Homo sapiens: one gene and its partners. The protein of the gene in region 1 purifies or fractionates together with the protein of each later gene. This does not show direct contact. Each region holds a gene or a part of one and is shown on either strand. Other genes may lie near its edges.

The links.
Region 2: the proteins of EHBP1 (region 1) and ARID3A purify together in Homo sapiens (affinity purification with mass spectrometry; one large-scale study listed by BioGRID and IntAct). This does not show direct contact.
Region 3: the proteins of EHBP1 (region 1) and ACAP2 purify together in Homo sapiens (affinity purification with mass spectrometry, with the first as the bait; one large-scale study listed by BioGRID). This does not show direct contact.

The regions. Positions count from the first base shown.
Region 1 is NC_000002.12:62,992,188-62,995,834, reverse strand, and holds part of EHBP1 (EH domain-binding protein 1), read right to left. Parts: intron 2,306-3,647; coding exon 2,167-2,305; intron 1,965-2,166; coding exon 1,858-1,964; intron 1-1,857. UniProt on the Homo sapiens protein: May play a role in actin reorganization. Links clathrin-mediated endocytosis to the actin cytoskeleton. May act as Rab effector protein and play a role in vesicle trafficking.
Region 2 is NC_000019.10:924,720-928,947, reverse strand, and holds the start of ARID3A (AT-rich interactive domain-containing protein 3A), read right to left. Parts: upstream 2,914-4,228; 5' UTR 2,889-2,913; exon of another isoform or gene 2,751-2,888; intron 1-2,750. UniProt on the Homo sapiens protein: Transcription factor which may be involved in the control of cell cycle progression by the RB1/E2F1 pathway and in B-cell differentiation.
Region 3 is NC_000003.12:195,289,439-195,293,085, reverse strand, and holds part of ACAP2 (arf-GAP with coiled-coil, ANK repeat and PH domain-containing protein 2), read left to right. Parts: intron 1-633; coding exon 634-821; intron 822-1,270; coding exon 1,271-1,380; intron 1,381-3,647. UniProt on the Homo sapiens protein: GTPase-activating protein (GAP) for ADP ribosylation factor 6 (ARF6). Doesn't show GAP activity for RAB35.

The DNA of each region.
Region 1 (3,647 bases):
CTTTAATTTTTACAATCATATTACAAATTTAAATCATCAAAGTCAGGGTTATTTATGGTATAGTCATAAAAACTGATTAATTATGGCTCCCTTTGGATTACCTGTTTACCTTTTGACATTTTTGGGGCTAAGAGATCTAATTAGCTAAGAAATATTGAAGAACTGATTAAGTGATTATTCTTACCACCACCACTCCTATCATAAGCACTTATAACATTATTTATTCAGAGAAATAAATGTGAACAAACTTCTTCTGTAAAATCCCTTCCCTTCCTAGCATGTGAATCTCTTAGAAGCTATAAAGAATTATATTTCACTACTCCTTAAACAGGAAATAAAATAAAGAATTATGTTAATTATGAGCATATTTTAGAATTCTCATGATTAATAAATATGTCTAACTATATGTGTAACTTACATACCTTTTGAACTGGTAAGTAATTTGTACTCATATGTGACCTCAATTTATACCAACTTATTATTAAATTGATTATGGCAGTTGACAAATTTAAAGTTAAAATATTTTAAGAAATCATAAAACTAAATTTCTCAGGATAGTTTGATTTTAAAAGTCACTGTATTTTTAAAAAATTTATGCAAAATGGATATTCTTCCATCTCAATACAAAATATAACAGAAAAAAATAAAATAATAGAATAAATGCTAATGGTAACTTTAAAATCTGGGATAATCTGGTGAATGCTTCTTGAACCTATCTGCCAGATAGCAGATCATTTTCAAAAGGGATATTTTATTTTCTCATTCCCATACAGACAGACAAAACAAATATAGTAGTTTGCAAAGATAATACAAAAAACAAATACATAAGGAAGCAGAAGTGATAAGCAACACACAAACTTCATTGCTCTTACTGATTGGTTCAGTTAAAAATAGAAAGAAATTTCATAATCAGATTTCTGTAGTGTGAGTACATAGTATAGTTAAGTATTCTGTAACTTAAAAGTTATACCAAATACTTCATCAGGATTATTAGTGAGCTGTTCTTTTCTAGCTCATCCCTTTCCAGGTCTTCTAAAGTAAACAACTTAAAATGAGAAGATTTTAGAGTCCTAAAATGTAGTTGGTGACTCTGAGTGTACTTGTATAAGGATTTTAAAATCCAACTATTTTAACACTGAAAACAAGAGAAAATACCTAGAAAAACTGTAGATAATTTAAAAAGTAGTACTATTAAAGAGAGCTATGCTTCCAGACAAAAATTCAAGTTAAAACTTGTTCTTCCTGCTTCTGTCCCGCAGCTGTCCATCAAAAGCAGCTTTCTCCCTGCGGTCTATCAAATATTTCCCTCACAAATCAATTTTACACATGATCAGCCCATACCCCTACTGAGCTGAACCTCCCTGTTAATTAAGTGAAGAAATTACCATATATATTATATTAATGCAAACATCATTCAGCTAGTAATTCACGGCTGATCTGGATAATGGAAAGGTTGAACACCCATTAACCCAAGCCAACAAAATGGGTTGGCTGAGAAATTCTAGCAGGTCTCATGTGACTTTTCCCTCTAACTGCAGCTCTGCGGTATCTGCTATTGTAATAATTAAAATCCTCCCAGTAGATCAATACTGGAATCTCTTTATGGGAAGTGCCCTGATGGAAATGTCTCAAGGAAACTGGGGCTGTGGAACTCTGAAAAATTCATTTTTTTTTATCTGACAATTATCACCACACTGCAGACTAATTCAACAGTGCACCCCTCTCACTCTGCTTTGAATGCACTGGAGATTGACATCTTAAAAAACCTAACATCTCATTTTAACAAATAAAGGCACTATTTCCACATACAGTTTGGAATTATCAGCAATCATGAAACCACACAAAAAATTAATATACATTAAGCACTTCATCTTCTGATGGCTTCCTCTGAGTTTCAGTTATCGCTGCCTTCTCCTCATTTCCTTTCTTTGTATCTTCCTGTATTGATCTCTGCCTTTTCATCTCTTAAAAAAAAAAGAGGAAAGACATGTAAAATTATTGTAAAGCTTGATATTTGTGTATTGAAATGTGAATTTACATTACCAGATTATATACATATATACTATATATATATGCTATATATATATACTATATATATATACTATATATAGATATCTATATATAGTTAAACCATAACATGGAAAAACATTTTAAAAAGTGTTCTACCTGGTCTATTCTCAATATATTGGCTGAAAGACTGAAGTTGAGTTTTTCTGACTGTAGAATCTTTGCTGAACACAACAGGATTTCTAAAACGTTCTGTTGTTTTTTGTAATCGTTCAGTCCGGAGATCTTCTGTGCCACTCTAAACGTAAAACAACACATGGTAAGAGAGTCCTGATCTCATAAACATAAAATTACACATTAGTAAGGCAATTTTTACTGATTTAAGATAACACTGATTTAGAAACTTTTTGCAAGAAAAGGATTTTAAAGCACTTTAAAGAGCTCAACTGCAAGTTCTGTTGCCTGTAATCACAAACTTTGGGACACATGGTTTAACTCTTGATAACTTTGATACGAATGTGTCTTCCACCAGTGATACATATCATTTAAAAGCCATGTTGCCTCCTATTTCCCCCACTATTCTGTGTCATCAGTTTGTACAGCCCCACAGACTTGTATGACAACAAGAACTAGTTTCTAATTTTATGCCCATTGAGATAAACCACTAATGCTGGATGAAGGCTAAAAGGTAGGATTATAATACTACCCTACTGAACTGCATTTCATCAGCTATAACTTTCCAAAGCCAGATTTGTAAGTAAGCCCTTTACAGCTAAGGAAACTACAATTATCTTTTCCGGAGCTTCCTATGTTAATACTGGTAACAAATTCAAATGGTTCTATCAACAAGAAATATCCCAGAAGACTGAACCACTGCAGTGTGTGGAAGCTGCAGATACCGAGGTGCTGTGTACCAAACAAATATTTCATTTTATACCTAATCTTTTATTATTTTTATTAAGTGTTTTGAAAGTAAATAGGGAAAGGCTAAGATGCATGACTAATAGCTAAGCCTGCTGAATGCTGAAACTGGTTATCAAAAGCTACCAAGACTTTGCCCTTCCTCTGCATTGAGACAATCAGTAATGAGGGAGCCCTCCAATGGCCTATTCTCTAGCCTCAAGGAGGCCTGGGATACAGAATCCTCAGGGGAAGGTAACAGTTTATTCTTTTCCACAAACACAGAATGCCTCATTTATAAATGTGTAAACTGCATTTTATTAAAAAAAATTAAAACCCAAGTCAACGCTGAAAGCTTCAAGAGAACAGATGGACTCTATATGTTCTTTATAAACACCATTTTCAAAATCTTAACTAAAAGGAATCATACAAAGGCAAGCTGTTTAAAGCACACCTTTTGTTGGAATAACTTTAAAGACTACTATATAAGAGTGTTTTGGAAAGCAAAACCAATTTTATCTATACAGATAAACCATAATAATGAAAATAACACTATTTTATTTTTTTAAAGTTATCTAATGAATTTATCATTAATATCATGCTTATAATATCCTAGCCATATAGTTATGATAGCAACAGTTTTGGCTTTTATTCTATTTTTTTAAAGAAAAATAGAGTTCTACTGTTATATAACTATCCAATAGTCTAATACTCAAGTCTTTACCAAAATAAACAAACAC
Region 2 (4,228 bases), on another chromosome or scaffold:
CGGGCCCCAGTCAGGTGGGTTCTAAGTTCCAGTCGCTGCCTGAGTCCCTGTTGGAGCGGCCCAGCCTGGCCTCCAGGTATCTAGGTATCCTCCCATCTCAGGCCAGACTGGAGATTGAGCGCCTGTTGTATACGGGCCCTGGGCTAACCCTCCCCCCATCACACAACTCAACAGCAACGCCCAAGCCACAACTTCTCTGGACCTCAGGTTCCCTACCTGCAAAACAGTGTGGGTAACAGTACCCCCCCAACCCATGGCACTCAAGGAGGGATGAATCGAGTTCAGGAGGTTAAGGTGGGCACCAACAGGTGTCAGAGAAGGGGGCACCAGGGCGGTCCCATTTCATGGTTGAGGACAACTGAGGCTCAGGGATCCTCTGCTTGGAGACATGGCGGTGGGATTTGAACCCAGGTCTGGGTGACCACAGAGCCTCCCACGCAGACCCCACAATCTCTGCAGGGCAACAGGGGTCTGGAGTTTCCCGGTCCTCTGGGATCCCGAGTGGGCCAGATGTCTCGGACGGCAACACACTCACCCAGCCTAGAGTGCCTTCCACCCAGGGCCAGTCCTAATGGCCTGGGTGAAGAACAGAGACTCCTGGGGCCTGGGTCCCACCCGAGCCACCCCCTAGCCCAGGCCACACCTCCACCCGCCCAGGCCGCCAATAAAACAGGCCGGGCAGAACCCAACAGGCCTGGAGTGACACCCCAGAGGGAAGGCACATCATGGGGACAGCGGAGGGGGCAAAGCTCCACCCTCCCGAGAGGCAGCTGGGCCCAGGAGGCCACCCCCAACCCTTACCCTGGCAAAGGAGCCCCCAAGACTCATACACAGCTCCTGGGCAGACAAGGCCTGGAGAGACGAGGAGGCAGGGACCCCTGGGACTCAGATCCCTCCTGTGACCCGACCCCACCCAGGTCAGTGTTGCACAGCAGACACCCCCAAGCCTCCCCAGTCACCGGACAAGAGAGTCCTGTGGCCCCTCTGCCCTAGACACCCTTTACCCAGACCCCTGAGTCTTTCGGCCCCATGGGTGAAAAGGCAGTGGGGGGCAGGTGGGTGGCCCCTGGGAGAAAGCGAGGAGGGCATGTTCCAAAATAGCCTCTGTTCCATCTGTTGTGGGGACAGAGGTCCCAGGTCACAAAGACCTCAGGGCCATAGCGCTGGGTTGTGACCAGGAGAGCCTGGCGGTCCGGAGGCCACCAGGGCGGCACCCAGCCCCCCATCCCCAGGCTGGAGGTCACCCCCCACCCACCCAACCCAAGAAAGTGCTGAGGGGGCATTTCTGACTCAGGGTCTGGTCGGGTCTGTCGCCCCTCCCCCACCTGGGACAACTTCAAGACAAGGCCCCCCCCACGGAAGAGCTCCAAGCAAAGCCCCCCCTCTTTGGGGGCACAGAAGGAAGAGGCCAAAGGAAGCCACTCCCCCCACCAGCCCGCTCCGAGCCCTGCTGGGTTTAATGACCCTTCCGGGTCGCCGGGTGGGGGAGGGGAGCAGGACAGACCTCCACGTTGGGGCCGGTGGAGGGGGCAGGTGGGGATCCCAGATTCCCCCCTAGGTCAGGGCTGGGTGCCCCCCCATCGCCGCCATAACCCTAAACTAGCTACGCCCACCCCCTTCAGACCCCTCCCCCCAAGAGCCCTTTGTCCTCGACCCCCACCCCCATTTTATGACAGCCCCAAGGGAGAGGCTGGGACGGGGCGCTGGGTGGTCGTTGGACCAGGCAGGGGTGGGGGGCGGAGGGATCCTGGGCCACACCCTCCTCCCCCCAGGCCTCCGGAGAGAGGTCACCCGCTCGGCGCGGGCCTTGCAAAACATGGTTATTTAAAGAGTTGTGCAAGGCCCCGGGCCCGCGGGTGGCGAAAGGGGCCCCTCACTCCACGAAGGGAAGAGGAGGGGGAGGGGCGGGGCAGAAAGCTGGGGAGGGGGCTAAGAAAGTCCTGGGTTGGGGGGGCCTGGAGGAAGTGAGAAAAAAACTCAAGAAGGAGAAGAAATAAGAAGACAGAAACCCTGGTCCGGATTTCAAAGGCTTCTTGGAAAGCGGCCGATTTGCATGGGGGGGGGAACCCCTCCAGCCCGAGCGCCTAAAAACGGAAGATAATTGAACCCGCCGCCCGGGGCCGGCGCCGAGCGTTGGAGTTGACAAACGCGCGCTCCCAGCGCTTCCTGCGCCCGCTTTTGTGTCTGGGGGGCCCTGAAACGGGTCAGGGGGCTCTTCCTGGGTATCCCCGCCGAGGAACCGGGCGCCCGGGCCCAACCCACCCCGGCGCCCGGGGGCCGCGGTGTCTCCCCCGGGGGCCCCTCTCTGCGCTGGGGCGGACACTTTATAAATAAACCAGCCCGGCTGGGGAGGCTCGCCGGGAACTACCCTCCCTCCTCTCTGGGCTCCCGAATAAATCCCTGATTTCGGGGAGAAAGAATAAAAATGAAATAAAATATCGGGGTGCAGCCCCCCGCGCGCGCGCAGAGACCATTTCCTTCCGCTGGGGAGGGGGGGGCGCGCACTCGCGACCCCCGATCGCCCCTGCTCGCCCCTGAGCGATTGATCCAGTGGGGAGTGAAGTCTCCAAGCGGGGTGCAGAGAAAACTCCCCGAACCCCAGCCCGCCAGGGCCGCCTTCCCAGTCCGGGACCCCCACCAACATCTCCGCCCAACTTTGGGGACCCCCTTCTTTGGCTTCCAGGACGCACTGCGCCCACCCCGGCACCGGAACCCGCGCTGGGAACGGCCAGCGCGCTCCCCAGCCTTACCGCGCAGGGCGGCTCGTAGTGGGGCGCGCGCCCCGCGCCTGGGGTCGGCCTGCCCGGGCCCGCCTGGCTTCCAGCCGCCGGTGCGCGCCGCTGGCTCCCGGCCCCCGACCCACGGGGCTGTGCCGCGCGCCGACTCACCGAGCCGCCAGCCGCGTCCGCGTCTACACCCCTCCGCCCGATTGGTAAGAGGCGCCCCGCGCGCGGCCGGCCCCCGCCCCGCCCCTCCCCCACCCCCAGACAAATCACCAGGGGACGAGTCGCTCTCGGATGCAAATACCTGGCCGGTGATTCAGCGCCGCGGCCCGGGCGCGGGAGGGCCTCGCCAGGGCTCCCCACTTTTCCCCGCACGCCCCCTCGCCCCCCTCCCGCGGTCTGACGACGCGCAACCAGCCCGGGGGCGCTGGGGAGCCGGGCAGAGTGGACGGAAATTTTCAGGTCGCGGCCCCTTTAAAGGATAATAAATAATAAACGGGAAGGGGAACAGCGCCGCGGGAGGCCCCGCCCCCGGCCTAGGGACGGTGGGCAAAGTGCGCGACGCGGCCCCAAGCGCAGAGGGTGCCGGGGGCAGGGGCTGGGGCGGGAGCGCCCCGGGGGAAGAAGAGGGGACTGACTGGGGCTCCGCCTGGGCGGGCTGGCCGGAGGCATCGGAGCCAGATCCGGGACCAAGTCTCTTCCCTTCTTACGGAGCACCTACGCTGGGCCTCGTGGACTCGGAGTTTCACCTTCGCCCCTTAGACGGAGAGACCCTGAGAGAGTGACTTCACTCTCCGGAGCCGCCGTTTCCAAGTCTGAGAAATGGGCTTGAAAGACCCGGTGCAGAGCTGGGCGGGCGGCGTCGGAGGGAGGGAACCAGGGTCCCGCCGGCCTCCCTCTGGGGAGGGACGGGCTGCAGACGGGGGCTCGGCGCGGGCGTGGGGAGGTGCGCGCTGGGACCCGGAGCCCCTTTGTGAAACCAGGACGACCCTGCCCGGCCCGGCTGTCACCAGCGTCGGGAGCTCGGCTGCCCACCACCCCCCCGTGAAGGTGGTGATGACTTACACGGTCTGAGCGGTCGCTTGCCCAACCACGTGCCCCGCGCCTCCCTCCAGGGAGGTCCCTGCACGTCTCCAGCCCTCACTCCTCTCTGTAGTTGGCAACCTTCTTGTCGCCACTGCGCAGAGCAGGAAACTGAGGCACCGAGCGGGGTGCAAGGAAGGCGGTCGGGAGGGGGACGCGTGCTCTGCAGGGAGCTGTGTGCGCGGGAAGCGACCCCAGGGGGCTAAGCGCAGAGGCCCAGGCTCCAGCCCGGACGTGAGCCCCAGGGGAGCCTGGAGGGCGGGCAGGGGCCACCCCGGGGGACCCTCACTTGTGGAGGGTCTCTGGCGGGCTCGGGTCCCCGGTCCTGAGTGTTGGGGGCGGGGTTGTAGTCGTCTCCCTCCCCTTTCCCTAGACTAGCACACGGCATTGCAACTTTCTCTCTGTCCTTCCACCTAGTTGCA
Region 3 (3,647 bases), on another chromosome or scaffold:
TATAGAAGAAGAAGGTTGAATGTTGGGGAATAGCTATGTGAAAATCTCCCATAAGCTCATTATGATAGATTAATGGTTTCTTATGTCATAGCTTTATTTTTTAAAAATTGCAATAAAATGCACATAAAATTTATCATCTTAACTTTTTTTTTTTTTTTTTTTTTGAGACTGAGTCTCGCTCTATTGCTCAGGCTGGAGTGCAGTGGTGCAATCTCAGCTCACTGCAACCTCTGCCTCCCGGGTTCAAGTGATTCTCGTCCCTCAGTCTCCCAGGTAGATGGGATTACAGGTGCCCGCTACCATGCCTGGTTAATTTTTGTATTTTTAGTAAAGACGAGGTTTCACCATGTTGGCCAGGCTAGTTTCAAACTCCTGACCTCAAGTGATCCACCCCCCTCGGCCTCCCAAAGTGCTGGGATTGCAGGCGTGAGCCACCGTGCCTGGCCCATCTTAACCATTTTTAAGTGTACAGTTTAGTGGCATTAAGTATATTCCCATTAGTGTGCTATCTTTACTGCCATTCATCCACAGAACTCTTTTTATCTTGCAAAACTGAAACTCTACCTATTAAATAATTTTTTCTTTTTCTGCCAAGAGCTCATTTTTATTGATGTGTATGTGTTTGCTTTTCAGAAGGAGAAAGGCAAGATTCTTCTATGTTTCTTGACTCGAAACATCTTAATCCAGGACTTCAGCTTTATAGGGCGTCATATGAAAAAAACCTTCCTAAAATGGCTGAGGCTTTGGCTCATGGTGCAGACGTGAACTGGGCCAATTCAGAGGAAAACAAAGCGACACCACTTATTCAGGCTGTATTAGGGGTATGCGTTTATACAATGACATTTTCAGTAGCAATCAAATATTTAAAAAAAATCATAATATGTTCTGAACTGGCTTTAGTATTGTCTTTGCTTCAAGAGATGGGTTAGAAAATAGAAGGAACCTCTGTGCTATTAATAGTAGTGGTTTCTGAGCACCACTTCGGTTGTTTCAAGTTTTTTTGCAGTGGAAGAGAATTCCGATAATGAAAGTATATAATGTGTTTTGCTAGTTCACAAACTGCAAATGAATCTCTATTAGAATTAGTTCTTGGGAAGAAAATAATATAATTTATAATTTCTCTGCCTTGGCTGAGGGATATTTTTTGTTTTGGAGAGAAGGAAATGGAAATGCTATTTGAGTAACGAAAACCAATTGTTTTTAAAAAGAAATGTATTGTTGTTTCTTGTTATTTGCTTTTGTCTATAGTTATCCTCTTTTTTCCTTTAAGGGCTCTTTGGTGACGTGTGAGTTCCTCCTACAGAATGGTGCTAATGTCAACCAAAGAGATGTCCAAGGGCGGGGACCATTGCACCATGCCACCGTCTTAGGGCACACAGGGTAACTGCAGTGCTTTCATATTTAAGGAGACTTTATTTGAAAAATTATTTTGAATTAATGTTTTAGTTTTTCTTAGGTTAAAGTTTTCAGGTAGTGTTTGTAAAGAGATGTGTTCCATGACTTATTTTGTCACGATGGAATTTGAAAGTTAAAAAAAATCTCTTTCAGAAAAAGCTACTATTGGTTTTCAGATACAAAAATTTCAAGGCTTACTTTGACCTTAACTTGTCATTAAATAGATCAGTTTTAGTACTTAACTTTCTCTGTTATTAAAATTGTGATTTTGTCAGACAACTTAAGCCTGTGTTTGTGTTTATGTATGTATGTACATATACATTATTTCCATAGCATGCACACACATAACCTATTTAAAGATAATTTGATGACTTTGTAATTTTTAGTTTTTTCCACAGGGTAGCTAAAGTCAAATTCTAAACTAAATTCTTACTTTGGGTTGTTGACATTGTGTCTTCTGGAGCGATAGTAAGATTCACAGAACAATAAAGCCTTGAAAATGGACTTTCTATTATTAGGAAGTATACATGAAAGAAAATGCTGGCTTTATGTGAAAAATTTGTGTCTTAAACGCTTGTTTCTTAATAAGATATCTCAGGGTATCCGATTATTATGTGGTGGATAAGCAAGAAGCTCTTATTTTGAAATATTTTTAAAATAGCATCTTCATTTATTTAGAGACAGGGTCTCGCCCTGTTGCCTAGGCAGGAGTGCACTGGTGCAATCATAGCTCACTACAGCCTTGAACTCCTAGGCTCAAGCGATCCTCCCCTAGTAGCTTGGGTTATAGGTGTGAGCCACTGTGTCTGGCTATTTTTATTTATTTATTTATTTATTTATTATTTATTTATTTATTTATTTATTTATTTATTTATTTTGAGATAAAGTCTTGCTCTGTCACCCAGGCTGGAGTGCAGTAGCACGATCTCAGCTCACTGCAACCTCCGCCTCCTGGGTTCAAGCGATTCTCCTGCCTTAGCCCCCTGAGTAGCTGGGATTGTAGGTGTGCACCACCATGCCTGGCTAATTTTTTTGTATTTTTAGTAGAGACGAGGTTTCATCATGTTGGCCAGGCTGGTCTTGAACTCCTGACCTCAGGTGATCCACCTGCCTCAGCCTCCCAAAATGCTGGGATTACAGGTATGAGCCACTGCGCACGGCCATGTCTGGCTATTTTTATCATGGCTTGTTTTCTTCTATCAGCAAAGAGATTCAGTCAGATAACTTCATCGTTTAAACTTTCTACACTTAAAAAAGGTAGTATTTAAGGTAGTACTTAACTCATCCTTTGTATTTTCTTCTTTTTTTTTAAGAGATGGGAGTCTCACTATGTTGCTCACGTTGGAGTGTGGTGACTGTTCATAGGCACATTCATAGCTCACTACAGCCTTGAATTCTGGGGCTCAGGATCTTCATGCCTCAGCTTCCCAAGTGGCTGGGACTACAGGCATGCCCTGCCACTCCCGGCTAATTTTTAAATTTTTTTTAGAGACATTTTGCTATGTTGCTCAGGCTGGTCTTGAACTTCTGACCTCAAGTGATTCCCCCTACCTCTGCCTTCTGAGTAGCTGAGATTACAGGTGCTTACCTTGCCCAGCCATTATTTTCTTCTTAAACTATCAAAATTCTTTCCATTTTATTTCATAGACTCCATTTAGTTATTCTTTCATATTTTAGATTTCTTTTTCAGTTTATTCAAGTAATGAATATTTGCAAGTACAGCAAGCAGATTACTTCCCATTCTTTGCTGTTGTATTATTATTATGAAGTTTACATTGCCTTGGCTTTCTTCATTTTCAAATAATGACCTTGAGTGATCTTTTTTTCATTTAGGTTTATAGATACCTGTGCACATGTTTTTATGATATTCTTTTTTTTTTTTTTTTTGAGACGGAGTCTTGCTCTCGCCCAGGCTGGAGTGCAGTGGTGTGATCTCGGCTCACTGCAAGCTCCGCCTCCCGGGTTCACGCCATTCTCCTGCCTCAGCCTCCTGTGTAGCTGGGACTACAGGCGTCCGCCACCACACCCGGCTATGTTTTTTTTTTTTTAATTTTAGTAGAGACGGGGTTTCACCTTGTTAGCCAGGATGGTCTCGATCTCCTGACTTTGTGATCCGCACACCTTGGCCTCCCAAAGTGCTGGGATTACAGGCGTGAGCCACCACGTCTGGCCTTTTTATGATATTCTTTGAGGGTAGGGACCACAACTTATATATCCACCATGCTATCTATATAGCACCAGATTAAATAAGA